7 linked regions of the Homo sapiens genome follow. The protein of the gene in region 1 purifies or fractionates together with the protein of each later gene. This does not show direct contact. Each region holds a gene or a part of one and is shown in the gene's direction. Other genes may lie near its edges. The genes, in order: HMGCL, IVD, LSM12, ALAS1, LYPLAL1, ABHD10 and L2HGDH.

The links.
Region 2: the proteins of HMGCL (region 1) and IVD purify together in Homo sapiens (affinity purification with mass spectrometry; one large-scale study listed by BioGRID and IntAct). This does not show direct contact.
Region 3: the proteins of HMGCL (region 1) and LSM12 fractionate together in Homo sapiens (co-fractionation; one large-scale study listed by BioGRID). This does not show direct contact.
Region 4: the proteins of HMGCL (region 1) and ALAS1 purify together in Homo sapiens (affinity purification with mass spectrometry; 3 studies listed by BioGRID and IntAct, with this or other methods). This does not show direct contact.
Region 5: the proteins of HMGCL (region 1) and LYPLAL1 fractionate together in Homo sapiens (co-fractionation; one large-scale study listed by BioGRID). This does not show direct contact.
Region 6: the proteins of HMGCL (region 1) and ABHD10 purify together in Homo sapiens (co-immunoprecipitation; one large-scale study listed by IntAct). This does not show direct contact.
Region 7: the proteins of HMGCL (region 1) and L2HGDH purify together in Homo sapiens (affinity purification with mass spectrometry; one large-scale study listed by BioGRID and IntAct). This does not show direct contact.

What each region holds. Positions count from the first base shown.
Region 1 is NC_000001.11:23,811,930-23,815,429, reverse strand, and holds part of HMGCL (hydroxymethylglutaryl-CoA lyase, mitochondrial isoform 1 precursor), read left to right. Parts: intron 1-1,091; coding exon 1,092-1,240; intron 1,241-3,500. UniProt on the Homo sapiens protein: Mitochondrial 3-hydroxy-3-methylglutaryl-CoA lyase that catalyzes a cation-dependent cleavage of (S)-3-hydroxy-3-methylglutaryl-CoA into acetyl-CoA and acetoacetate, a key step in ketogenesis. Terminal step in leucine catabolism.
Region 2 is NC_000015.10:40,404,424-40,408,594, forward strand, and holds the start of IVD (isovaleryl-CoA dehydrogenase, mitochondrial isoform 1 precursor), read left to right. Parts: upstream 1-1,371; 5' UTR 1,372-1,395; coding exon of another isoform or gene 1,396-1,404; coding exon 1,405-1,548; exon of another isoform or gene 1,549-1,831; coding exon of another isoform or gene 1,832-1,927; intron 1,928-3,212; coding exon 3,213-3,302; coding exon of another isoform or gene 3,303-3,389; intron 3,390-3,515; coding exon 3,516-3,567; intron 3,568-4,171.
Region 3 is NC_000017.11:44,056,672-44,060,171, reverse strand, and holds part of LSM12 (protein LSM12), read left to right. Parts: intron 1-3,500. UniProt on the Homo sapiens protein: Nicotinic acid adenine dinucleotide phosphate (NAADP) binding protein. Confers NAADP sensitivity to the two pore channel complex (TPCs) by acting as TPC accessory protein necessary for NAADP-evoked Ca(2+) release.
Region 4 is NC_000003.12:52,211,494-52,214,827, forward strand, and holds the end of ALAS1 (5-aminolevulinate synthase, non-specific, mitochondrial isoform 1 precursor), read left to right. Parts: coding exon 1-58; intron 59-764; coding exon 765-927; intron 928-2,515; coding exon of another isoform or gene 2,516-2,526; coding exon 2,527-2,687; 3' UTR 2,688-2,834; downstream 2,835-3,334.
Region 5 is NC_000001.11:219,194,378-219,197,877, forward strand, and holds part of LYPLAL1 (lysophospholipase-like protein 1), read left to right. Parts: intron 1-3,500.
Region 6 is NC_000003.12:111,982,026-111,985,525, forward strand, and holds part of ABHD10 (palmitoyl-protein thioesterase ABHD10, mitochondrial isoform 1 precursor), read left to right. Parts: intron 1-3,500. UniProt on the Homo sapiens protein: Acts as an acyl-protein thioesterase that hydrolyzes fatty acids from acylated residues in proteins.
Region 7 is NC_000014.9:50,249,730-50,253,229, reverse strand, and holds part of L2HGDH (L-2-hydroxyglutarate dehydrogenase, mitochondrial isoform 1 precursor), read left to right. Parts: intron 1-3,500.

The sequences.
Region 1 (3,500 bases):
GAGGCCAGAAGTCCCAAATCAAGGTGTCAGCAGGATTGGTTCCTTCTGAGGCCTCTGGGAGAATCTGTCCTATGCCTCTCTGCTGGGGTCTGGTGGTGGCCAGCAGTCCTTGGCATTGCCTGGCTTGTAGATGCATCTCTCCAGTCTTTGCCTCCGTTTTCCCAGGGCCACCTTTTCTGTGTCTCTGTGTCTTCACTTGGCCATCTTTTGTTTTTGTTTTTTTTAGACAGAGTCTTGCTCTGTCGCCCAGGCTGGAGTACAGTGGCATGATCTCGGCTCACTGCAAGCTCCACCTCCCAGGTTCAAGTGATTCTCCCACCTCAGCCTCCCGAGTAGCTGGGACTACAGGCGTGTGCCACCACGACCGGCTAATTTTTTGTATTTTTAGTAGAGATGGGGTTTCACTGTGTTAGCCAGGATGGTCTCGATCTCCTGACCTCATGATCTGCCCGCCTCGGCCTCCCAAAGTGCTGTGATTACAAGCGTGAGCCACTGCGCCCGGCTGGCCATCTTTTTTTAAGGTCACCAGTCGTATGGGATTAGGGGCCCACCCTATTCCAGTATGGCTTCATCTTAACTAATGATATCTGCAATGACGCTGTTTCCAAATAAGGTCACATTCTGAGGTGCTGGGTTTTAATCCTTCAACATATATTTTTAGGAGGACACAATTCAACCCATAACATTCACATAACATAAAATTTACCTTAAGAGAAATTTTTTGCTACTCTGTGTCAGTGTTCTTTAAAGAGAAAAGTGCTGGCCGGGCATGATGGCTGACACCTGTAATCTCAGCACTTTGGGAGGCTGAGGTGGGTGGATCACAAGGTCAGGAGTTCGAAACCAGCCTGACCAACATGGTGAAACGCTGTCTCTACTAAAAATACAAAAATTAGCCGGGCGTGGTGGTGGGCTCCTGTAATCCCAGCTACTCAGGAGGCTGAGGCAGGAGAATCGCTTGAACCCAGGAGGTGGAGGTTGCAGTGAGCCGAGATCATGCCACTGCACTCCAGCCTGGGCAACAAAGCAAGACTCCATCTCAAACAAAAAAAGAGAAAAGTGCTGAAAGGAGTTCACCTGGATGTTGGCAGGTTGCTGCTGGAGCCAAGGAAGTAGTCATCTTTGGAGCTGCCTCAGAGCTCTTCACCAAGAAGAACATCAATTGTTCCATAGAGGAGAGTTTTCAGAGGTTTGACGCAATCCTGAAGGCAGCGCAGTCAGCCAATATTTCTGTGCGGGGGTGAGTCAGAGCACATTGGTATCCTTTCCTCTGTACCGTTCTGGAATGGGGCTAGACTCTGACTCAAGTGGTCCTCCTGCCACAAACTTCTTATCCTGGGTGGGGGCAGCCTGAGCTCCACACCTAGACATCTTTTCCCAAATAAGTGTGGTCAGAAGAAATCCTAGGAAGTACTTTCTCTCAAACCTGAATTTTGGGTCAGTTTACCAGCTAGCCATGATAGCATGCGCCTGTAGTCCTAGCAACTTGGGAGACTGAGGCAGAGGATGGCTTGAGACCAGGAGTTTGAGGCTGCAGTGAGCCATGATAGCACCACTGCTATCATGCTAAAGGAATCTAGCAGGACAGGACACTAACGGGTTTGTGGAGGTCAGTTGAGTCCTGGCTTTATCACTAGCTCTTCACACATCCCTGGAGAATTACCTAGGCTTCTATGTTTCCAACATCACATCTCTAATATCAGTGGTTCCAGGCATTGTGTGTGTATTATCTATAATAATTGAAACCTCACAATAGCCCAGCAGGGAGTAGGTTATCCTCACTTTATAAATTACAAAACCGAGGCCCAGGAAGGGCGAATACTCTACTGTAAGGTCACACTGCTGTGCAAATTGCAGCCAGAGGCCGGGCATGGTGGCTCACACCTGTAATCCCAGCACTTTGGGAGGACAAGGCAGGTGGATCACCTGAGGTCAAGAGTTCAAGACCAGCCTGGCCGACATGGTGAAACCCCATCTCTACTAAAAATACAAAAATTAGCTGGGCGTGGTAGTGGATAGAAACCCCGTCTTTACTAAAAATACAAAAATTAGCTGTAATTCCATCTACTTGGGAGGCTGAGGCAGGAGAATCACTTGAATCTGGGAGGCGGAGGTTGTGGTGAGCCGAGATCACACCACTGTACTCCGGCCTGGGTGACAGAGCAAAACTCCATCTCAAAAAAAAAAAAAAAAAAAAAAAAACATTGCAGCCAGAATGATCGTTGAAAAGTGCACATCTGGGCTGAACATGGTGGCTCATGCCTGTAATCCCAGCACTTTGGGAGGCCGAGGCGGGCAGATCACCTGAGGTAAGGAGTTTGAAACCAGCCTGGCCAACATGGGGAAACCCCATCTCTACTAAAAATACAAAAATTAGCCGGGCGTAGTGGCATGCACCTGTAATCCCAGCTACTCAGGAGGCTGAGGCGGGAGAATCACTTGAACCCAGGAGGCAGAGGTTGCAGTGAGCCAAGATCACGCCACTGCACTCCAGCCTAGGTGACAGAGTGAGACTCTGTCTCAAAAACAAAAACCAAAAAAACCCCACAAAAGTGCACATCTGATCACATCCCTCCTGGTTAAAAAGCTTTCAGTGACTAATCAAGTGCAGACTTTTTAATGAGGTTTACAAACCCTGCATGATTTGGTCCCGGCTCTTTTCTGTAGCCGTACCGTTCAAGTTCCCTTCTGGCCCCTGCTTCCTCTTCATGGTACACTCCAGCCCAACTGGAACTTCTTTCTGTTTGTCACATGCCTCCACTCTTGCCTCTGGGCCTTTGCACGTGCTCTCTCTAGACTCAGAACAACCTTCCTTGGGAGGCCAAGGTGGGCAGGTTGCTTCAGCCCAGGAGTTTGTGACTGGCTTGGGCCTGGGCAACATGGTGAAACCCCAGCTCTACAAAAAAAAAGCCAGGTGTGGTTGCATGTGCCTGTAGTCCCAGCTACTCAGGAGGCTAAGGTGGGAAGATCACCTGAGCCTGGGAGGTCCAAGCTGAAGTGAGCCAAAATCATGCCACTGCACACCAGCATGGGTGAAAGAGTAAGACTCTGTCTCCAAAAAATAAAGAACACTTCCTCCACATCATGCTTCTCGGGGATAACTCCTGCTCATCCTTCAGGTCTTCTTGTGGGAGTCAGTTCCTCTGAGAAGCTGCTCCAGTCCTTCAGCTGGAGTTAGTGCCCTTCTCTGGGACCCCATGGTGTCGGGACATCCTCTAAATGTAGCACTTAGCTGCTTGTTAAATTCCCTCCCTGCCCCACCCCACTAGACCGTGCACTCCATGAGGGCAAAGCCCACATCTCTCCCAGTCCCTGGGGTGCTCCACTCTCCCAGCTTGGGGCCTAGCCACAGTGGGCACTCAGTCACTGACGGGCAGGTGGATGAATGGGGAAGCAGGTGCTCCAGTAACATTGGCCCAACTCCCAGATCTGTGTCTTTCTAAGCATCTCTCTTACCTTTTTCTTGCTCAGCAGTGGTTGGAGAATAAGTGGGAGCATCA
Region 2 (4,171 bases), on another chromosome or scaffold:
CAAATTTTTTGTGGAGACAGGGTCTCCCTATGTTGCACAGGATGGTCTTGGACTCCTGGCCTCGAGCGATCTTCCCACCTAAGCTCCCAAAGTCCTAGGATTACAGGCATGAGCAACCATGCCCAGCCTATTTAATACATCTTATTTAATATATAGTATAATACGTAAATATGTACTATTTAATATTTAACACATATTAAATACAAATGGTCCCCAACTTACAATAGTTCAACTTAAGATTTTTCAACTTTATGATGGTGTGAAAGTGATAGACATTGAATAGAAACTGTACAATATTCAATAAATGATATCTAACACTGTCTTATAAAATATGCTTTGTGTTACATGATTGTGCCGTTATAAGCTATTATAAGTGTTCCAAGTACGTTTAAGGTCCACTAGTCTAAGCTATGATGTTTGGTAGGTTAGGTGTTTTTTTGTTTTCTGTTTTGAGACGGAGTGTCACTCTTGTTGCCCAGGCTGGAGTGCAATGGCGTGATCTCAGCTCACCGCAACCTCCACCTCCCGGGTTCAAGCGATTCTCCTGCCTCAACCTCCTGAGTAGCTGGGATTACAGGCATGCACCACCACGCCCAGCTAATTTTTGTATTTGTAGTAGAGACAGGATTTCTCCATGTTGGCCAGGCTGGTCTAAAACTCTCCGCCTCAGGTGACTCACCCGCCTCGGCCTCCCAAAGTGCTGGGATTACAGGTGTGAGCCATCATGCCCGGCCTAAGTGTATTTTCAAAGTGCATTTTTGACTTACAATATTTTCCATTTATGATGGGTTTATCGAGAAGTAACCCCACTGTAAATCGAGGCGCATCTCCAATCTAGAAGGCAGCTACTCCTTAATAACCCCTTTCCCATAAAACATGAATCTAAATCTACAAACCTTGTTATATAATAAAGCAAGATGTACTCTGTTATGATCAGTGTGCACGTTAGAGCAAGCACTACTTTTCCGATCTTAATTATTCCAGAGATGCTTGACCAATTTACTGGGTACGTGGGCAGTTTTCTGATTGCTGTTTCCACACTCTGCTTTCCCACAGAGAGATTTCCGCAGTTAGGGGCTGCTATTTCAACGCAGGGAGATAAAAAGAAAAAAACACTTGCTCTTCTACCCCGCTAAAAACACTCATCCTAGGGAGCACGCCAGCATTTGCAGCGTTCGGGGCAGGGCCACTCGGCCTGCGGCCGTTGCACTGGCTGGAAGCTGGCAGGCGATCACGGTTGATTGGCTCGGGTGCGGTCCAAGGGCAGCAACGCCTTCGGCGGGCCGCCTAGGGTGATTGGCTGCTGCAGCCCACCCCCTAGCCGGTTTGGTGGGCGGCGAAGCCTGGATTGGTGGAGCTAAGAGCTGGCTCAGTTTCAGCGCTGGCTCTTCGTGCATGGCAGAGATGGCGACTGCGACTCGGCTGCTGGGGTGGCGTGTGGCGAGCTGGAGGCTGCGGCCGCCGCTTGCCGGCTTCGTTTCCCAGCGGGCCCACTCGCTTTTGCCCGTGGACGATGCAATCAATGGGCTAAGCGAGGAGCAGAGGCAGGTGAGGAGACTGACCCCCTTCCTGGCCCCAAGGCCTCCTTCCTGCCTGGTCCCCAAGGCCTCCTTCCTGCCTGGTCCCCATCGGCCCAGCGCCCACCCAGCCTTGGCTTTTGCCCGTGGGCCGTTGGGAGCGCCAGCGCGGGGGCGGGACGCGGGGCCTCCGACCTCGGGTCCAGTCCTCTGACCTCGGCCTCACGTCTGTGGAGTGAAGATTTGAGACCGTGGGACAGTACTGCTGGAAGTAGAGAGGAGGAGTCGAGGCTGGGAGAGCTCCTGAGAGACTGATGGTGTTTTGGTGGAGGATTGGCCAGGCTACCTACCGCTTGTGGCACAAGGGCCCTCAATCTGTATGTAGTTCACTTACACCTGAACAGGCTGAGGTATGCTTCTCACACCTGGGTGGTCATCGTAATCACCAGGGAGTCTTTTTTGTATAAACAGTTTGGGGGTTTTAAAAAGCCACAGTGAGCTCTCCTGTCGCTCTTCAGCCCATTGGGTCAAAACACAAAAGTTGAACAAGTACTTGAAAGAAGTAGTTGGAGGCCAGGCGCCGTGGCTCACACCTGTAATCCTAGCACTTTGGGAGGCCGAGGTGGGAGGATTGTTTGAGCTCAGGGGTTTGAGATCAGCCTAAGCAACATAGCCAGACCCCCATCTCATAAAAAATAGAAAAGAAGACGAAGTAGTATTTACAAATGGAGCAGAACCAGAGTCCTTCCTGAGGTTTCACTTGGAGGCTGGATGGAGTTGGCGGAGGTATGAGCCTCCCAGCAACTCCGTAGTTTATGTTTATAGCCAGCGAGCGCTCAGAGCTTCCGTGAACCACCTCAAGTGGAAAGGGTTCAATCCCTATTCTCAAGCTTTCCTGGCAAGAGGAGTTTCTTTTCTTTTTTCTTTTTTTTTTTTTTTTGAGACGGAGTTTCACTCTTGTTGCCCAGGCTGGAGTGTAATGGCGCGATCTCCGCTCACCACAACGTCCGCCTCCCGGGTTCAAGTGATTCTCCTGCCTCAGCCTCCCAGGTAGCTGGGATTACAGGCATGCACCACCACGCCCGGCTAATTTTGTGTTTTTAGTAGAGACGGAGTTTCTCCATGTTGGTCAGGCTGGTCTCAAACTCCCAACCTCAGGTGATCCTCCTGCCTCGGCCTCCCAAAGTGCTGGGATTACAGGCATGAGCCACCATGCCCAGCCGCCAAGAGGCGTTTCTAATCTCTTTGGGTAATCAGACCCTTTTAGCCAAAGGTTCGGGGGCTTAAAAGAGCCTGACAACTATTGAGATCTGGCAGCTGCCTGGAATGCAGCTGGAGCACAGAGGGTGGGAGGTGGGAAGGTGCTGGGGAAGCTAGGAGAGTCAGCTGGGGTCAGCTCCTGCAGGGCCTAGTAGGCCTGGGTGAGAAGCTTGTGTTTTATTCTAAGTACAGTGGAAACCAATGGAATGATTTTTATGTAAAGTGTGACGTTTTAAAAATTACCATCAAGCTGTCTAGGCTGAAGACCTTAAGAAAGAGGGGTGAAGATCATCTCTGAGGAGGCATAAACTACTGAGGCCTCTCAGTTTCAGTCTGATGCTGTTTGGGGAAGTTACTTGTGGCCTTTTCTCTTGAATGTGTCTGGGTAGTGGAGATGCTGTCTGCAGTGGCATCTGTTTACCTCTCTCCTATTAGCTTCGTCAGACCATGGCTAAGTTCCTTCAGGAGCACCTGGCCCCCAAGGCCCAGGAGATCGATCGCAGCAATGAGTTCAAGAACCTGCGAGTGAGTTGGGAGGTCCGGGCAGTCGGGGGCAGTCAGGGAGTGGGGCTGAGCTGCACTGCTGCCTGGAAGAGCTCACACAGTTTTCTGGTAAATGAAGCCTCTCTAAGAATGCAGCCCCTCTCTCTGAAGTGTTTGGGTCTCATTGTTCCAGCCACATGTGACTGGCTGCCTTCCCCTCAACACTTATTCCACTCTGCTCCATTCTGTTGGCAGGAATTTTGGAAGCAGCTGGGGAACCTGGGCGTATTGGGCATCACAGCCCCTGGTGAGTATAGTGTCTTTCCCTAAAAAGAACTTTTCTTATGTGCCCTTTAAGACAGTTCCCAAAAGAAGCAGGAAGGGAAGGGAAAGATTGTGCTTAAAGAAACCCAGAACTGCATCTTTTGGACCTGTGAAAGCACCCATTGATTGTCAGCCCAGAGAACAGGACACTCTTCTATTTTATTAGACAGTGATGTAGAGAAGGCAGAGGGATTAATTAGGTCATTGTGGCTCACTTGGATCAGGATCAGTCCAACTCTTGAACTCTGCATACTTAATAGGCTCACCCAGGTGATTTGGGAAGTTTAGAAAACTCTGGATCAAGTGGTTGTCTTCATAGTACCTCAGTCTTACTGCCTCCCCTAATCCCTATAAGCTTTGTCCTACCAGTGGCCTCTCGGCAGGAACACTCTGGGCAGGTGTGTCCCTGCAGGGACTGCCTGTGTCCTCTTCTGCTTAAACCTTGGAGCTCATTTGGGAGCAGATAGCGGGGGGAGTAGGGTAGGGGCTGGGCAGGGGAGAGAGATGTCTATCTGGGCTTCCAGGTGAGGTGGCCAGATGATGTGTTTAATAGGCTGTCCGGAGGGAGAAGGCAGGGAGCTAGCAGG
Region 3 (3,500 bases), on another chromosome or scaffold:
ATTTTTTGAGACGAAGTCTTGCTCTGTCGCCCAGGCTGGAGTGCAGTGGCGCCATCTCGGCTCACTGCAAGCTCCACCTCCCGGGTTCATGCCATTCTCCTGCCTCAGCCTCCCGAGTAGCTGGGACTACAGGCGCCCGCCACCATGTCCGGCTAATTTTTTTGTATTTTTAGTAGAGACGGGGTTTCACCATGTTGGCCAGGATGGTCTCGATCTCCTGACCTTGTGATCCGCCCGCCTCGGCCTCCCAAAGTGCTGGGATTACAGGCTTGAGCCACCACACCCGGCCTACTCTAACTTTAGTCAAAGGTATCATCACATATTGGCCCATCTTGCTGACATAGTAAGTGATCTGCTTAATTAAACCTGTTGATAAAAACCGGATATTTGTTGACTCTGACCTAGCAGGAAATGGAAGAGAAGGGCTTATACAGGAAATACTTAATAATAGCTCAACTAGGGAAGGTATAAACTAGCAACTTCTTGGAAATTGGCCTGTTTTGCTTTCGAATGATAGTTCACTTCAGGCTAAGAAGTCTTATTTCTATCTCCAGCAGTAGCATGTAAGAGGAAGCTTGAGAGAGGACAGTAGGGTTGCAGTAGGGGGAATTCTTTTTTTTGAGACAGGGTCTCAGTCCATTGCCCGGTGTGATCTCGGTTCAAGCGATTCTCCTGTCTCAGCCTCCTGAGTAGCTGGGATTACAGGCGCCTGCTGCCACCATGCCCGGCTAATTTTTCTATTTTTAGTAGAGATGGGGTTTTGCCGTGTTGACCAGGCTGGCCTTGAACTCCTGACCTCAGATAATCCACCTGCGTCGGCCTCCTAAAGTGTTAGGATTATAGGCGTGAGCCACTGCACCTGGCCAAGTCCCCTGTTTTTCTATTACTTTGTGTTTAGCCCAAGGAACTCATAGTTTGGCAACATGAAGTACCCTGAATAATGTACAATGCTAAGTTATGTTTCGTGTGTGTGTGTATGTGTGTGTGTGTGTTCTGTTTTTTAGAGATATAGTCTCATTCTGTTGACCAGGCTAGAGTGCAGTGGCATGATCATAACTCACTGCAGCTTCGAACTCCTGGCTCATAGCCTCAAGTGATCCGCCCAAGCTTCCTGAGTAGCTGGGACTACAATCTCCCATCACCACACCTGGGTGGTTGTTTTGTTTCTTTTTAGTTAGTCTCGCACTGTGCCCAGGCTGGAGTGCAAATGATGCAGTCACAGCTCACCGCAGCCTCGACCTCCAGGGTTCGCTCAAGTGATCTTTCCACCTCGCCTCCCAAGTAGCTGGGACTACCGGCACAAACCACCACACCTGGCTAATTTTTCTTTCTTTTTTGAGATGGAGTCTTGCCCTGTTGCCCAGGCTGGAGTGCGGTGGTGCCGTGATCTCGGCTCACTGCAACCTCTGCCTCCTAGGTTCAAGCAATTCTCCTGCCTCAGCCTCCTAAGTAGCTGGGATTACAGGCGTGCGCCACCATGCCTGGCTAATTTTTTGTATCTTTAGTAGAGATGGGGTTTCACCATGTTGACCAGGCTGATCTCGAACTCCTGACCTCATGATCCACCCGCCTTGGCCTCCCAAAGTGCTGGGTTTACAGGCGTGAGCCACCGCGCCCAGCCTAGTTTTTTTTTGTAGAGACAGGGTCTTACTGTGTGGCCCAGGATGGTCTGTAACTCCTGGGCTCAAGCAATCCTCCTTCCTCGGCTTCCCAAAGTATTCGAATTACAGGTATGAGCCACTGGCCCAGCCCCTAGGTAACGTTTCTAAGTAAAGAAAAACATCTATGTTCTGTGGTCAGGGGCAGGGTAGTCTAGTAGAAAAGACTTAGGAATGAACCAAGTAGATCAGTCTTTAAAGTCATTAGACTTGGCAGATGTTAGTTAATGTCTCCCAAATTATTATTATTATTATTATTATTTATTATTTTTTTTTTGAGACGGAGTCTTGCTCAGTCGCCCAGGCTGGAGTGCAGTGGCGCGATCTCGGCTCACTGCAAGCTCCGCCTCCTGGGTTCACGCCATTCTCCTGCCTCAGCCTCCCGAGTAGCTGGGACTACAGGCGCCCACCACCACGCCCAGCTAATTTTTTTGTATTTTTAGTAGAGACAGGGTTTCCCCGTGTTAGCTAGGATGGTCTCAATCTCCTGACCTCATGATCCCCCCATCTCAGCCTCCCAAAGTGCTGGGATTACAGGCGTGAGCCACTGTGCCCGGCCCAGATTTTTTTATTGTAGCTAACTAATGCTCATTGAATTATGGGATGAGATAAGGCAGGGGAAGGAGGGCATTGTGACAAAGGGCCCATAGAAGATTTATGCCATTACACTAGGCTCTCACTTAACGTCTTTGGTAGGTTCTTGGAAACTTTGACTTTATGTATTATTATTATTATTATTACTTTGTTTTTTTTTTGAGACAGAGTCTCCGTCTGTCTCCCAGGCTATAATGCAGTAGTGCTGTCTCAGCTCACTGCAACCTCTGCCTCCCAGGTTCAAGCAGTTCTCTACCTCAGCCTCCGGAGTAGCTGGGATTCCAGGCATCTGCCACCACAGCTGGCTAATTTTTGTATTTTTGGTAGAGACAGGGTTTCACCATCTTGGCCAGGGTGGTCTTGAACTCCTGACCTCATGATCCGCCCACCTCCGCCTCCCAAAGTGCTGGGATTACAGGCGTGAGCCACTGTACCTGGCACATTATTATTTATTTTTTTAAGATGAAGTCTCACCCAGGCACGGTGGCTCACGCCTGTAGTCCTAGCACTTTGAGAGGCCGAGGCGGGCGGATCACGAGGTCAGGAGATCAAGACCATCCTGGCTAACATGGTGAAACCCCGTCTCTACTAAAAACGCAAAAATTAGCTGGGCGTGGTGGCATGTGCCTGTAGTCCCAGCTACTTGGGAGGCTGAGGCAGGAGAATGGTGTGAACCCAGGAGGCGGAGCTTGCAGTGAGCTGAGATCGCGCCACTGCACTCCAGCCTGGGAGACAGAGCGAGACTCCGTCTCAAAAAAAAAAGAAAAAAAAAGTCTTACTCTGTTGCCCAGGCTGGAGTGCCATGGCTCTATCTCAGCTCACTGCAACCTCCGCCTCCTGTGCTAAAGCAGTTCTCCTGTCTCAGCCTCCCGAGTAGCTGGGAGTACAGGTGCGCCCCACCACGTCCGTCTTATTTTTTTATGTTTTTGAGACAGAGTTTCACTCTTGCTGCCCAAGCTGGAGTGCAATGGCACGATTACAGCTTACCACAACCTCTGCCTCCCGGGTTCAAGTGATTCTCCTGCCTCAGCCTCCCAAGTAGCTGGGATTACAGGCATGTGCCACCCCACCTGGCTAATTTTGTATTATTAGTAGAGAGGGTTTCTCCATGTTGGTCAGACTGTTCTTGAACTCCCGACCTCAGGTGATTTGCCTCGGCCTCCCAAAGTGCTGGGATTACAGGTGTGAGCCACTGTACCAGGCTGTATTTTTTTTTTTTCTTTTTTTGGAGAGGAGTTTTCCTTTGTC
Region 4 (3,334 bases), on another chromosome or scaffold:
GCTAATGGATGCCGGCCTCCCTGTTGTCCACTGCCCCAGCCACATCATCCCTGTGCGGGTAATGGCCTGTCTCTGATTGGACTTGCCGTGGGGTGTGCCTCTACACATGATGTACGGATGTTCTGCTTCATACCTTCCTGAAGTTGGGCTTGAGCGGGGTGACTGCCAGGGCAGGGGTTGTAGCCAGCCACCCTCTGTCATGTTTCCGCCATTGGCTGACTTCACCAAGAGAAGAAAGCCTTTGAACCCAGCAGGCTGGGGCAGAAGTTCCCTCTCCGGAGCACTGACCTTAACAGGGTAAACACAGAGCTTGTATCTAGAAAGCTCCAGAAGCCTGAGCTTGGCCAGCTTTGAAGTATGGCTTTCTACTTAGTAAATTTCAAAATAGGTTTTGCCCTTCCCACTACAAATGGTAGCACTGTTGATGTCACAGTTGAATTAGTGTAATGAATACAGCTAGTATAACTGAATCTAGATTATACATCGTGGGTATGAGAGTCTGCTGGTACGAACAGAACCAGTGTTTTCTGATTAAAAATGTATTTCTTTTTAATAAGGTTTTGGTTCCCTGGTGTTCACGAAACAACACTGGCTTCTTTTAAATGACAGGTGTTTGGGCAGCGCTTTCCCTCTGCCCCAAGCTTGCATGTGTTGCTACAGTCTGGTCTTGAGCCTGAGCGTTGTGGGGACTGCGTTCGTTAGGATCTCTGCTAAGAGGTAGTCCTTCCTGTTGTGACCTTACCTTCTGCTCTCATTGAACTTAGGTTGCAGATGCTGCTAAAAACACAGAAGTCTGTGATGAACTAATGAGCAGACATAACATCTACGTGCAAGCAATCAATTACCCTACGGTGCCCCGGGGAGAAGAGCTCCTACGGATTGCCCCCACCCCTCACCACACACCCCAGATGATGAACTACTTCCTTGGTGAGTACCTGGGGAGCTGCTGGTGCCTCACTGAGGAGTTGCATAAAGCTGTCTTTGCAGTGTTTATAATTGAAGCCCTTCAGAGGCATTCAGATTTGTTTCTTCTTCTTTTTTTAGTTTTTTTTTTGAGACAAGAGTTTCGCTCTTGTTGCCCAGGCTGGAGTACAATGGCACAATCTCGGCTCACCGCAACCCCTGCCTCCCAGGTTCAAGCGATTCTCCTGCCTCAGCTTCCTGAGTAGCTGGGATTACAGCCATGCGCCACCACGCCTGGCTGATTTTGTATTTTTAGTAGAGATGGGGTTTCTCCATGTTGGTCAGGCTGGTCTCGAACTCCCGACCTCAGGTGATCCACCCACCTCAGCCTTCCAAAGTGCTGGGATTACAGGTGTGAGCCCTGGTGCCCGGCCTGTTTCTTCTTTTTCCAAGTAACTAAGCATGCCCTCAAATGGTTCAAAACCCTAAAAGGTATTTATTGTCTGATTCACATCAAGAGGGTGGAGAGTCATTTTGGGAGCTCTGAGGGAGCCTGGGAATCCGCTCAGTGTTTCCAGTGCCCCCTTGTCTACGTGGCTGAAGGATGCACAGTAATGACTTGCAGGGAGAAGAGGCCTCTGAAGGCTTGAGTCCCCGCTGTCCCTCCGGAGTCCACCTCACATTTGTCTTCACCACTGCCCTCTACTCCATGATGTTGTATAATCCTTGAATAACCCCACACCTAATCGCCTCTGATAAGAGGAATTGCTCAATATTTTCAACTGCCCCGTGGTTCTATACTGCTCCACCCATGTCCAACCTAAAGGCAGAGATGGAAGGGGGCTATTAGCCACAGGTCACCTCTGCCTCGAAGGTACATTGCCTTCCCAAGCCCGCCCAGCGTGGCTCAGCTTCCTCACAGGCTCTCTGTTCTGTTGGAAATGCTGGGTTTAAACTGTCACGTGGCAGTGTTGGAGCAGCTTCTTCCCTACAGGCCTGTGAAATCAAGCCCAACTCTGGGTTTTATTTTTCTCTTTATTTATTTTTATAAAAGCCTTAAAATTTTTATAAAAGCCTTATCTCAGTAGAGATATAGCTCACTTACCATAAAATTCACCCTTTTAAAGTATCCAAGTCTATGATTTTTAAGTACACTCCCAGTGTTATGCAACCATCACTTCTATCTGATTCTAGAACATTTTCATCACCTCAGAAGCCCCTACCCATTAGGAGTCACTCCTCTTTTCCCCATCCCCAGCCCCTGTCAACCACGGCTCTTTCTGTCTCTATGGATTTGCCTTTTCTGGACCTTGTGTCTAAGTGGAATCATACCGCCTGTGCTCCTTTGTGTCTGCCTTCTTCCAGCATCATGTCTGCAAGGCTCATCCATGCTGTAGCATTCATCAGCACTTCATTTCTTTCTGTTACCAAATAACCTTCCATTGTACAGATTTACCACATTTTGTTTATCCGTCTATTGGTGGACATTTGGTTGTTTCTCTTGTTAACTATTATGAATAATGCTGCTATGAACATTTGTGTACAAGTTTTTGTGTGGACATATGTTTTCATTTCTCTTGTGTATATTACTCCCTTTAATATTTAAAAACTGTTTCTCCTCAGAGAATCTGCTAGTCACATGGAAGCAAGTGGGGCTGGAACTGAAGCCTCATTCCTCAGCTGAGTGCAACTTCTGCAGGAGGCCACTGCATTTTGAAGTGATGAGTGAAAGAGAGAAGTCCTATTTCTCAGGCTTGAGCAAGTTGGTATCTGCTCAGGCCTGAGCATGACCTCAATTATTTCACTTAACCCCAGGCCATTATCATATCCAGATGGTCTTCAGAGTTGTCTTTATATGTGAATTAAGTTATATTAAATTTTAATCTATAGTAAAAACATAGTCCTGGAAATAAATTCTTGCTTAAATGGTGGTTCTTTCTGCTATTGGCTACTGGATAACATTCTTCATTGGCTAGACACAGTGGCTAACACCTGTAATCACAACACTTGGGAGGCCAAAGCAAGAGGATCACTTTAGGCCAGGAGTTTGAAGCTGCAGTGAGCCATGATTGCTCCACTGCACTCCGGCCTGGGTGACAGAGCAAGACTGCCTCTGAAATAAAAAATAATAATTGTCATCATCCCTTTAAGTTCAGTCTGTATTCTAGGAATGAATAAACTGAATGAAGTACTGGAGCTCTGGTAATGGCTTCAGAGGAGGAGCAGCAGAACCTCCCACTGCTTGAGCCCTGCTACCTCCTTAATGCCTACTGTATCCAGTGGCTGACCCAGCCGCACCCGGCAACTGAACAGTTTTGAAAGAGTGACACCACCTTGGCGGCCGGTTTCACTTTAAACTTCTCACTTCACATCTTCAATGGACAGTCAGTGCTGCCCAGCAGTCCTGCTACAGCTGCCTCCCCCTGACTTT
Region 5 (3,500 bases), about 200 Mb from region 1:
ATCATTCAGTCATCATTCAATCTTTAGCAAGTATTTTTTAAGTCCCCACTATGTGCTACGCATTATTATAGATGTTCACGGGGATGTGCAGATAAGTAAAGCAAGATCTATCTGCCTTACATATTTCTTACAACCTGAAAGGGCCAATGAGATTCTTAAAGTGGTAACTATAATGCCAGCCAGGCTGTGATGAGTGCTCTAATGTGGTATAACTAATAGCTTTTCAAAGCCAATGATAGTATATATTTCTTTTTATTTCCCAGAACCTATCACAATGCCTGGCACAGAGCAAATACTCAGGAAATCTATAACAAATAACATTACCCAATCAATAAATTGTCAGTACTGTAGGAATTGAGAGGAAGAAGTAGTCACATGCATTTGGGGCTGTAAGAGAAAGATTTAATAGAAAGATGGCAGTGGCATTTAAGATGCACAAATTATTAAAATTTTAACTATTACAGTGTAGAAGTCTAGGTAGAGGGAATGATTTGTACAGTAAAGTAGAAGTGGACAGAGTAATGCTTTTTGTTTTTGTCTGTCTGGACAGTAGTTGGCTGTAACAAAGTTTGTGTCTAACTAAAAAGTACCTGTTGACTCAGATAGCCACAGTAAGAGACTAGAACGTGATGGCATAATGGTGACAAAAATGAGTTCAAATCTACAGTCCACCACTTCCTAGTTGGCTCACCACTTATTACCTACACTTAATTTTTGCTACCTAATCTGTAAAGTGGAAATAATAATATAATATCTGTTTACTGAGAGATGAACAAACTATTTGGTTTCTTCCAGACTCTCAGTAAATACTCTGTTCAGTTTTTAATCCTTTATTTTGTAGGTATAATAACATGTAATAATTGGTAAAGGATCATTAAATAATGTCTTCAAGTCATAAGAATTGTACTTTGAAAAACTAATTTGGCAGAAGGGGTAAGTAAAAGGATGAGAAGTCTGACATGGAGAAACCAGTATAATATAATGAAAGTCTGAAGTGGTGTGGTGGCAATAGGAAAAGAAAAGATCAGGATGAGAAATTGCTTTAAAAAATAAAAGTACATTCTTCATAAGCAAAAAAATAGATAAAAGGAGAAAATACTCTGAGTAGTACTCTTAATGAGTGTGTATTGAAGAGTTTATCACACTGAATGGTAACTGCTGTCCATTTGTCTCTTGCCCCATCCTCTCTCTTCCTTTCCCAGATCCATTACTTTATCTAGTTCATCTTTGAGTACTAGAGATATTATGGATTTTCTGCAGTATATTACATTTTAAAGAATCCTAGTACAACAAAATCAAATCTTTTAAAAATTTTAATTTTATTTTAAGTTCCAGGATACATGTGCAGGACATGCAGGTTTGTTACATAGGTAAACATGTGTCATGGTGTTTTGCTATACCTATTAACCTATCACCTAGGTATTAAGACCTGTATTCATTAGCTGTTTATCCTGATGCTCTCCCTCTCACCGCCTCCCTGACAGGCCCCAGTGTGTGTTATTTGCCTCTCTGTGTCCATGTGTTCTCATGGTTCAGCTTCCAACATGCAGTGTTTGGTTTTCTGTTCCTGTGTTAGTTTGCTGAGGATAATGGCTTCCAGCTCCATCCTTGTCCCTGCAAAAGACATGATCTTGTTCCTTTTTATGGCTGCATAGTATTCTATGGTGTACATGTACCACATTTTCTTTACCCAGTCTGTCATTGATGGGCGTTTGGATTGATTCATGTCTGCTATTGTGAATACTGCTGCAGTGGACATATGTGTGCATGTATCTTTATAATAGAATGATTTATATTCCTTTGGGTGTATACCCAGTAATGAAATTGCTGGGTCAGATGGTATTTCCGGTTCTAGGTCTTTGAGGAATTGCCACACTGTCTTCCACAATCCTTGAACTAATTAACATTTTCATCAACAGTGTAAAAGTGTTCCTGTTTCTCCACAGCCTTGCCAGCATATTAAAAATTCAAAATTCAAAAATTCTTGAATTTTTAATAATTGCCACTCAGACTGGTATGAAATGGCATCTCATTGTGATTTTGATTTGCAGCTCTCTAATGATAAGTGATGTTGAGCTTTTTTTCATGTTTTTTGGCTGCATAAGTGTATTCTTTTGAGAAATGTCTGAAGAGTCATTTATGACAAACCCACAGCCAGTATCATACTGAATGGACAAAAGCTGTAACCATTCCCCTTGAAATCCAGCTCAAGACAAAGATGCTCTCTCTCACCACTTCTATTCAACATAGTATTGGGAGTTCTGGCTGGGGCAATCAGGCAAGAAAAAGAAATAAAAAGTGTGTTCAAATAGGAAGAGAAGAAGTCAAACTGTGTCTATTTGCAAATGACATGATCCAATATCTAGAAAACTCTATCGTTTCAGCCCCAAAGCTTCTTAAGTGGATAAGCAACTTAAGGAAAGTCTCAGGATACAAAATCAATATGTAGAAATCACAAGCATTCCTATACACCAACAGTAGGCAAGCAGAGAGCTAAATCATGAATGAACTCCCATGCACAATTGCTACAAAGAGAATAAAATACTTAGGAATACAAAGGACTTCCTCAAGGAGAACTACAAACCACTGCTCAAGGAAATAAGAGAGGACATAAACAAATGGAGAAACATTCTATGCTCATGGATAGGAAGAATCAATATCATGAAAATGGCCATACTACCCGAAGTAATTTATAGATTCAATGCTATGCCCATTAAACTACCATTGACATTCTTCACAGAATTAGAAAAAACTACTTTAAAATTGGAACCAAAAAAGAGCCCATATAGCCAAGATAGTCCTAAGCAAAAAGGACAAAGGTGGAGGCATCATGCTACCCAACTTCAAACTATACTACAAGGCTACAGTAACCAAACAGCATGGCACTGGTACAAAAACAGACACATAGACCAATGGAACAGAATAGAGATCTCAGAAATAAGACCTCACATCTACAACCATCTGATCTTCAACAAATCTGACAAAAACAAACAGTGGGGAAAGGATTCCCTATTTAATAAATGGTGCTGAGTAAACTGGCTAGCCATATGCAGAAAATTGAAACTGGACCCCTTACTTACACCTTATACAAAAACTAACTCAAGATGGATTAAAGACTGAAATGTAAAACCAAAAATTATAAAAACCCTAGAAGTAAATCTAGGCAATACCATTCACAACATAGACATGGGCAAAGATTTTATGATGAAAATTTCAAAAGCAATAGCAACAAAAGCAGAAGTTGACAGATGGTATCTAATAAACTAAAGCACTTCTGCACAGCAAAAGAAGCTGTCATCAGAGTGAACAGACAGCCTACAGAATGGGAGAAAATTTTTGCGATCTATCCATCTGACCAAGGTCTAATATCCAGAATCTACAAGGAACTTAAACAAATTTACAAGAAAAAGAAAACCCCATTAAAAGGTGGGCAAAGTACATGAACAGATGCTTCTCAAAGCAGAAACAAATCTTAAATGAAGTTAAACACACATATAAAA
Region 6 (3,500 bases), on another chromosome or scaffold:
ACTTCTGTTCTAATCAGTTGAAGTAAATGCCAGCATTTTTATACATTATTTTAATGGTCTGTAAACTTGCATCTTGTGATTTAGGGTAATTTTAAAAGCAACCTTTAAAAGACCTTTTTTAAAGGCCTTTGTGCCACGCTGACAACCCTGGCAGAAAAGGACATCTTAAGGGAAATATTGGTAACTAAGCTCTTTAGAGGCAATAATGTATGTGACAACAAACAGATATACTAGTTGGCTTTCATACAGTCTCTTATATTATCATTTTCCACTGGGGACTTAAGGACTTTATTTGATCACTGTTTATCTAAAAGTAATACATGTATTTAAAAGTATCATAATGCAAATTTCTGCTGAGTTTTCTCTTCCCTCTCCTGTAATCTGAATATGTATAAGCATAAATAGGGATAAGTGGTACTTAACTCAAGCTTGATTTTATAATTCCTAATTTTTCACACTGAGAGTTATTTTAGTAAATAACTTTATGTTATTATAAGGTCTACCTGTAGCAGTTATATGTTTAGTATCCACTGTCCAGAAGAGATGGTATGATTTCGTAAAAAGAAGATTAGCCTGGAATTCAAGAAACATGAGTTCTAGAATAAATTCGAGCAATAACTATGACAAGACAAGTAAGTTAATAAACATTGGACCTAAGTTTGTCATCAAAAGAAGGAGGTTGGACTAGAGATAACTTCTGAGTTATTTTCTAGCACTAACAGCCTAAAAATCTATCCATCTAAATTTTTAGAAGAGTGACTCACAAACATTCATTCAATAATTCTAGAAAATACAGCTGTATATAAAACTTTCAGACTACCTGTTCAATATATTAGCAGCAATTATGTCAATTATAAAATTAAATAAGATTTAATCTTATTTCTTTTACCAAACTAATGAATTATTTTATTTTCATACTCAGAACTATGTTAAAATCTGTTCTGACTTATTCTGAAGATTGGAGTACTTTTTGGAAATAGATTCTCTAGCACTATACTGAGTGCTGCATAATAACAAAGAATTATAAAACATTGTACTTGCCTATGAGGACCTTTCATTCAGGGTGGGGAAACACAAGATAAAATACATGTTAGAAATTTGGCAGAAATACTCATCAGAATGTGATTGTGTCAAAAGAACAGTATACTTAATTGCATAAAGTTAGAGACAGTGGGATTGAAATAGATAAAGGAACGTTGAAGAATAATTCAGATTTGGGTGGGAGGGAAGTGCTGTCCAAGGAGGGGGACTGTCCTGAGCAGAAGATCATAATATCAAAAATATTGTTATCACTTTTCTTTTTTGCCACTGAATAAATTTGAATCGAGAAATCACCATTTTACCAGTTCTAAAATTTCAGCTTTGAGACTATGAGAGTTATAACCAGTTCCTGTCTCCCTATAAGACATAATGTGGCTTTTCTGCATTTTTGGATCCTGTGTGAGTATACCTTCATAAAGAATAGTGCTTAACTACAAATATTTAGTTTGAACAAGTTCCATTTTATTTGCTCTTATCAAAGTTCATCACAGTCTAATTATTGTTAACTATTGATTGCACTTTATTATAAGAGATTTTATCTTCTATTCTCTAATTTTTCAGGTTGCTTTTGTTGGGATTTTTTGCTGTAAAATTTAGATCTTCAATGATGAAATAGTTTATTACACAAGAAATAAAACATATGACTATATGAAAATGTTTTATTAAGGTCCTATCACCATGCCTAAAATAAGACTGATTCAGATCTCAGGAATATAACATATGGTTTTAAGGCTGGTATTCTCTCATAATTATTTGTAATAGAATTTTTATTTGGGACTACATCCCAGACTATTGAGGCTGCTAAGATGGAGATGTGCTACTGTTTAAAAGTTTTAAAGTGCTGAATATGTTTGGATTATCTTTGTCTCTGGATTGGGGTTCAGTGAGAGTTAACTATATTTTTTTAATGGTACCCTGTTAGTATCACCAAGTATTTATATTTTCCTTCATGAAGGAGCTGTACAAGTATTTTGCATCCTCACCATATATTTGGAAGGCAGCTAACTGTAAAAGATGCCACATTCAGCCATATCCAATTGCCACCTATGAAGAGAGAAAAGGAGAAAATTAGTTGGTGTCTTTCCCCCTTTTTTCTTCCACCCCTTCTACCCATCTCTTACATACCCTGGATTGAGGGGGAAACAGTAACTGATTTAGACTGCACCAGTTGCCCTGTTCTATTTCCCAAGGATCCAAAATCGTTTCACTTCAAACCTAAAGAAAAATTTAATTTCTTCTCTCCCCTATTTCTCATAAATCCCTTACTTACTGTACCAGCCATTCCACCAAAAAGGTTCATTTGAACTAGGCTCTGGGAAAGGATATCAGTAAAGAAGGGAAAATATATCAGTAAAGAAGATGATGGAAGAAGGTATTCCAGGTAAAGGAATCAACAGTGTGAGATGTGAAACACATAAGAAAACATAGACCTATTTTAGGAACAGTAAGTTCATCAATTTGTCTAAAGCAGTAGTATTCCCTGATGAAGTGAGTACTACTGTAAAATTTAGTAGTAAAAAAAAATTTACTGTAAAATTTATTGTGAAATCAATCTGAAATGACCAGAATATAATGGTTCAAAAAAACAGGCCAAAGCACTAAGTGTTTATGTTGTATATCACAGGGAGCACTGAAGGTAATGCTAAAATGTTAAAGAAAAAAACTGACATGTATATAGTGACTCTATTTAAAGACAGAGTCATAGAGACACAAGATAGAAGGCTACTGTGATAGTCTAGGTCTAAGATGACAAATAAACACCTACACCAAGATACTGGACTTACCAAAGTACCAAGAAAGGGATGAACATAAGAAGAAATGAGAAAGAATGGTGATGGTATAGGGCAGGCAGTATTCTGTGGCCTGGAAAAACAAACGAATAAAACAGCCTCCTCTTAAGGAACTGACATTCTAGTCAGAGGGAGATGAATGTTTAAAAACAAACTTGATTACAATACAATATGAAAAGTGTTGAGTACATACAAAAGAAAGTGACTGGTACTAAATGGGGCATATATGTCAAGTGAAGTTCCTCAGAGGAGGTGACATGACTTAAAGGGTGACTACGAATTTGGGTTGGGGAGGAAGCTGTTCTTGGCAGCAGAACAGCATGCTAAGGCTCTAAGTTATAAAAGGGTGTAACTGGGAATTAGGAGTAGTTCAGTATGACTAGAGTTTAGGTAACCTGTGGGTGTGGTATGATACTTTATACCACCATGATTTTTTATTGATTTGATACCCTTAAGGAGAGGTAAAATTCATAGATCAGACAGATAACTGAGCCTAGATAACTAGGAAGTTGGAAGGAGAAAGGGATGGGTTGGTGATGATGAATTTTATTCTGGTCTCCTTCCCTTCCATCAATTCACTAAATATACACTAAGCACCTACCACTCGCAAGGAACTGAACTAGGCACTAGGAACGCATTGAAACAAAGCTTGTGCCCATGTGGAACTTT
Region 7 (3,500 bases), on another chromosome or scaffold:
TGATTGTTTCCTTTGCTGTGCAAAAGCTTTTTAACTTGATGTGATCCCATTCTGGATCATATTGTTTAATTTCTATGTGTTTATATAATTTCCAAAATTCCTCTTGTGATTGATTTGTAGTTTTATTCCATTGTGGTCAGAGAAGATGCTTGATATTATTCCAAATTTTTTGAATGTTTTAAGACTTGTTTTGTGATCTAACATATGGTCTATCCCTGAGAATGATCCATGTGCTGAGGAGAAAAATGTGTATTCTGCAGCCATTGGATGAAATGTTCTGTAAATAACTATTAGGTCTATTTGTTCTGTAGTGCAGATTAAGTCTGACATTTCTTTGTCGAGGTTCTGCCTGGGAGATCTATCCAATACTGAAAGTGGGGTGTTTAAGTCTCCAGCTATTATTATATTGGGGTCTATCTCTTTAGCTCTAATAATATTTGCTTTGTATAGCTGGGTACTCCAGTGTTGGGTGCATATATATTTACAATCATTATGTCCTCTTGCTGAATTGACTCCTTTATCATTATATAATAATCTTCTTTGTCTCTTCTTACAGTTTTTGTCTTGCAGTCTATTTTGTCTGATATCAATATAGCTATTCTAGCTATTCCTGCTCTTTTTTCATTTCCATTGTCATGGAATATCTTTTTCCATCCCTTTATTTTTAGTCTCTTTGTATCTTTATAGGTGAAGTAAGTTTCTTTTAGGCAACAGATCATTGGGTCTTGTTTTTTCATCCATTCAGCTACTCTATGTCTTTTTGACTGCAGACTTTAGTCTATTTACATTCAGTGTTATTATTGATAAGTAAGGACTTACTCCTGCCATTTTGTTATTTGTTTTCTGGTGGCTTTACAGTCTTCAATTCCTTCTTTGCTTTCTTCCTATCTTCCTTTTAATGAAGGTGATTTTTCTCTGATGGTATGTTTTAATTTCTTTCTTTTTGTTTAATTTTTTGATATCCATTGTATGTTTTTCTATTTTACCATGAGGCTTGCAAATACTATCTTATAACCCACTATTTTAAACTGATGACAATACTGATTGCATATGCAAACAAACACACAGAAAGAAAACTAATAAAAACTCTACACTTTAACTTTGTTCCTTGGCTTTTAATTTTTTTTTTTTCTCTTTATATCTTATTGTACTGTCTGTGTCTTGAAAAGTTGTTGTAGTTACTATTTTTGATTGGTTCATCATTTAATCTTTCTATGTAAGATGAGAAGTTTATACACCACAATTATAGTGTTATACTATTCTGTGTTTTTTATGTGTGCTTGCTGTTATCAGGAAGTTTTGTACCTTTATATGATTTCTTCTTGCTCATTAACATCCTTTTCTTTCAGATTGAAGAACTCTCTTTAGTATTTCTTGTAGGACATATCTAGTGTTGATGAAATCCCTCAACTTTGTCTGGGAAAGTATTTCTCCTTCATGCTTGAAGGATATTTTCACTGGATATACTATTTTAGAGTAAAAGGGTTTTTTCCTTCAGCACTTTAAATATGTCATGCCACTCCCTCCTGGCCTGTAAGGTTTCCACTGAAAAGTCTGCTGCCAGACATATTGGAGCACCATTGTATATTATTTGTTTCTTTTTTCTTGCTGCTTTTAGAATTCTTTCTTTATCCTTGACCTTTGGGAGTTTGATTATTAAATGGCTTGAGTTAGTCTCTGGATTAAATGCTGTTGGGGTTCTATAATCTTCTTGTACTCAAATGTTGATATCTTTCTCTAGGTTTGGGAAGTTCTCTGTTATCATCCCTTTGAATAAACTATTTACCCCTATATGTTTCTGTACCTCCTCTTTTAGGCCAATAACTCTTAGATTTACCCTTTTGAGAATGTTTTCTAGATTTTGTGGGCATGCTTCATTGTTTTTTATTCTTTTTTCTTTTGTCTCATCTGACTATGTATTTTCAAATAGCCTGTCTTTCAGCTCACAAACTCTTCTGCCTGATCAGTTCTGCTATTGAGACTCTGATATATTCTTCAGCATGTCAGTTGCATTTTTCATTTCTAGAATTTCTGTTTAATTCTTTTTAATTATTTCAATCCCTTTGTTAAATTTATCTGAAAGAATTGTGAATTCTTTCTGTGTTGTCTTGAATTTCTTTGAGTTTCTTCAAAACAGCTATTTTGAATTCTCTGTCAGAAAGGTCGTATATCTCTGTTTCTCCAGGATTGGTCTCTGGTGCTTTATTTAGTTTATTTGAGGAGGTTATGTATTCCTGGATGGTGTTGATGCTAGTAGATGTTCTTTGGTGTCTGGGCATTGAAGAGTTGGGTACTTATTGTAGTCTTCACAGTCTGAGCTTGTTTGTGCCTGTCCTTCTTGGGAAGGCTTTCCAGGTATTCAAAGGGACTTGGGTAACAAGCCCAATAACATTGTGTCTTTTGTAGACTTGTAGAGGTACCACCTAAGTGGTCTTGGATAAGATCCAGAAGAATTCTCTGGATCACCAGGCAGAGACTCTTGTTCTTTTCCCTTACTTCCTCCCAAATAAATGGAGTCTCTTTCTGTCTGTGCTAAACCCCCTGGAACTGGGGGGTGTGGTGATGCAAGCACTCCTGTGGCCACCACCACTGGGACTGCACTGGGTCAGACCTGAAGCCAGCCCAGCACTGGGTCTTGCCCAGGGCCCTTCCCTTCAGGGCAGTAAGCTTCCTCAGGCCCCAGGCGTGTCCAGAGATGCTGTCTGGAAGCCACAGATTGGGGTCAAATACTTTAGTAGTTTACCTGATGTTCTGTTCTACTGCGGATAACTAGCACTCACACTACAATACAAAGTTCTTCTCACTCTTCCCTCCCCTTTCCACAGGCAGAGGGGCCACTCCCTGTGGCTACCACCACCTTTGGTCCACAGGGTTTCTGCCAGGCCACCACCAATATTCACTTAAAGCCCAAGGGCTCTTCCATCAGCTTGTGGTGAAAGCTGCCTGGCCTGGGACTTACCCTTCAGGGCAGTGGGCTCCCCTCTGGCCCAGGGTAGTGCTAGAAATGCCGTCCAAGAGTGTTGGCCTGGGCCAGACACGGTGGCTCATGCCTGTAATCCCAACACTTTGGAAGGCCAAGACGGGTGGATCACCTGAGGTCAGGAGTTCGAGACCAGCCTGGCCACCATGGCGAAACCCCATCTCTACTAAAAATACAAAAATCAGCTGGGCGTGGTGGAGTGCACCTGTAATCCCAGCTACTTGGAAGGCTGAGGCAGGAGAATCGCTTGAGCCCAGGAGGTGGAGGTTGCAGTGAGCCGAGGTCACGCCACTTCACTCCAGCCTGGGCAACAGAGCGAGACTCTGTCTCACAAAAAAAAAAAAAAAAAAAAAAAAAAAAAAAAAAAGGAGTGTAAGCCTTGACTTGGGGACCCCAAGAACCTGCTTGTTGCTCTACCTCACTGTGGCTGAGCTGGTACCTAAGGTGTAAGACAAAGTCCCCTTTACTTTTATCTCTGCTTTTCTCAAACAGAAGGAGTCTTTCACTGTAGCCACCACAG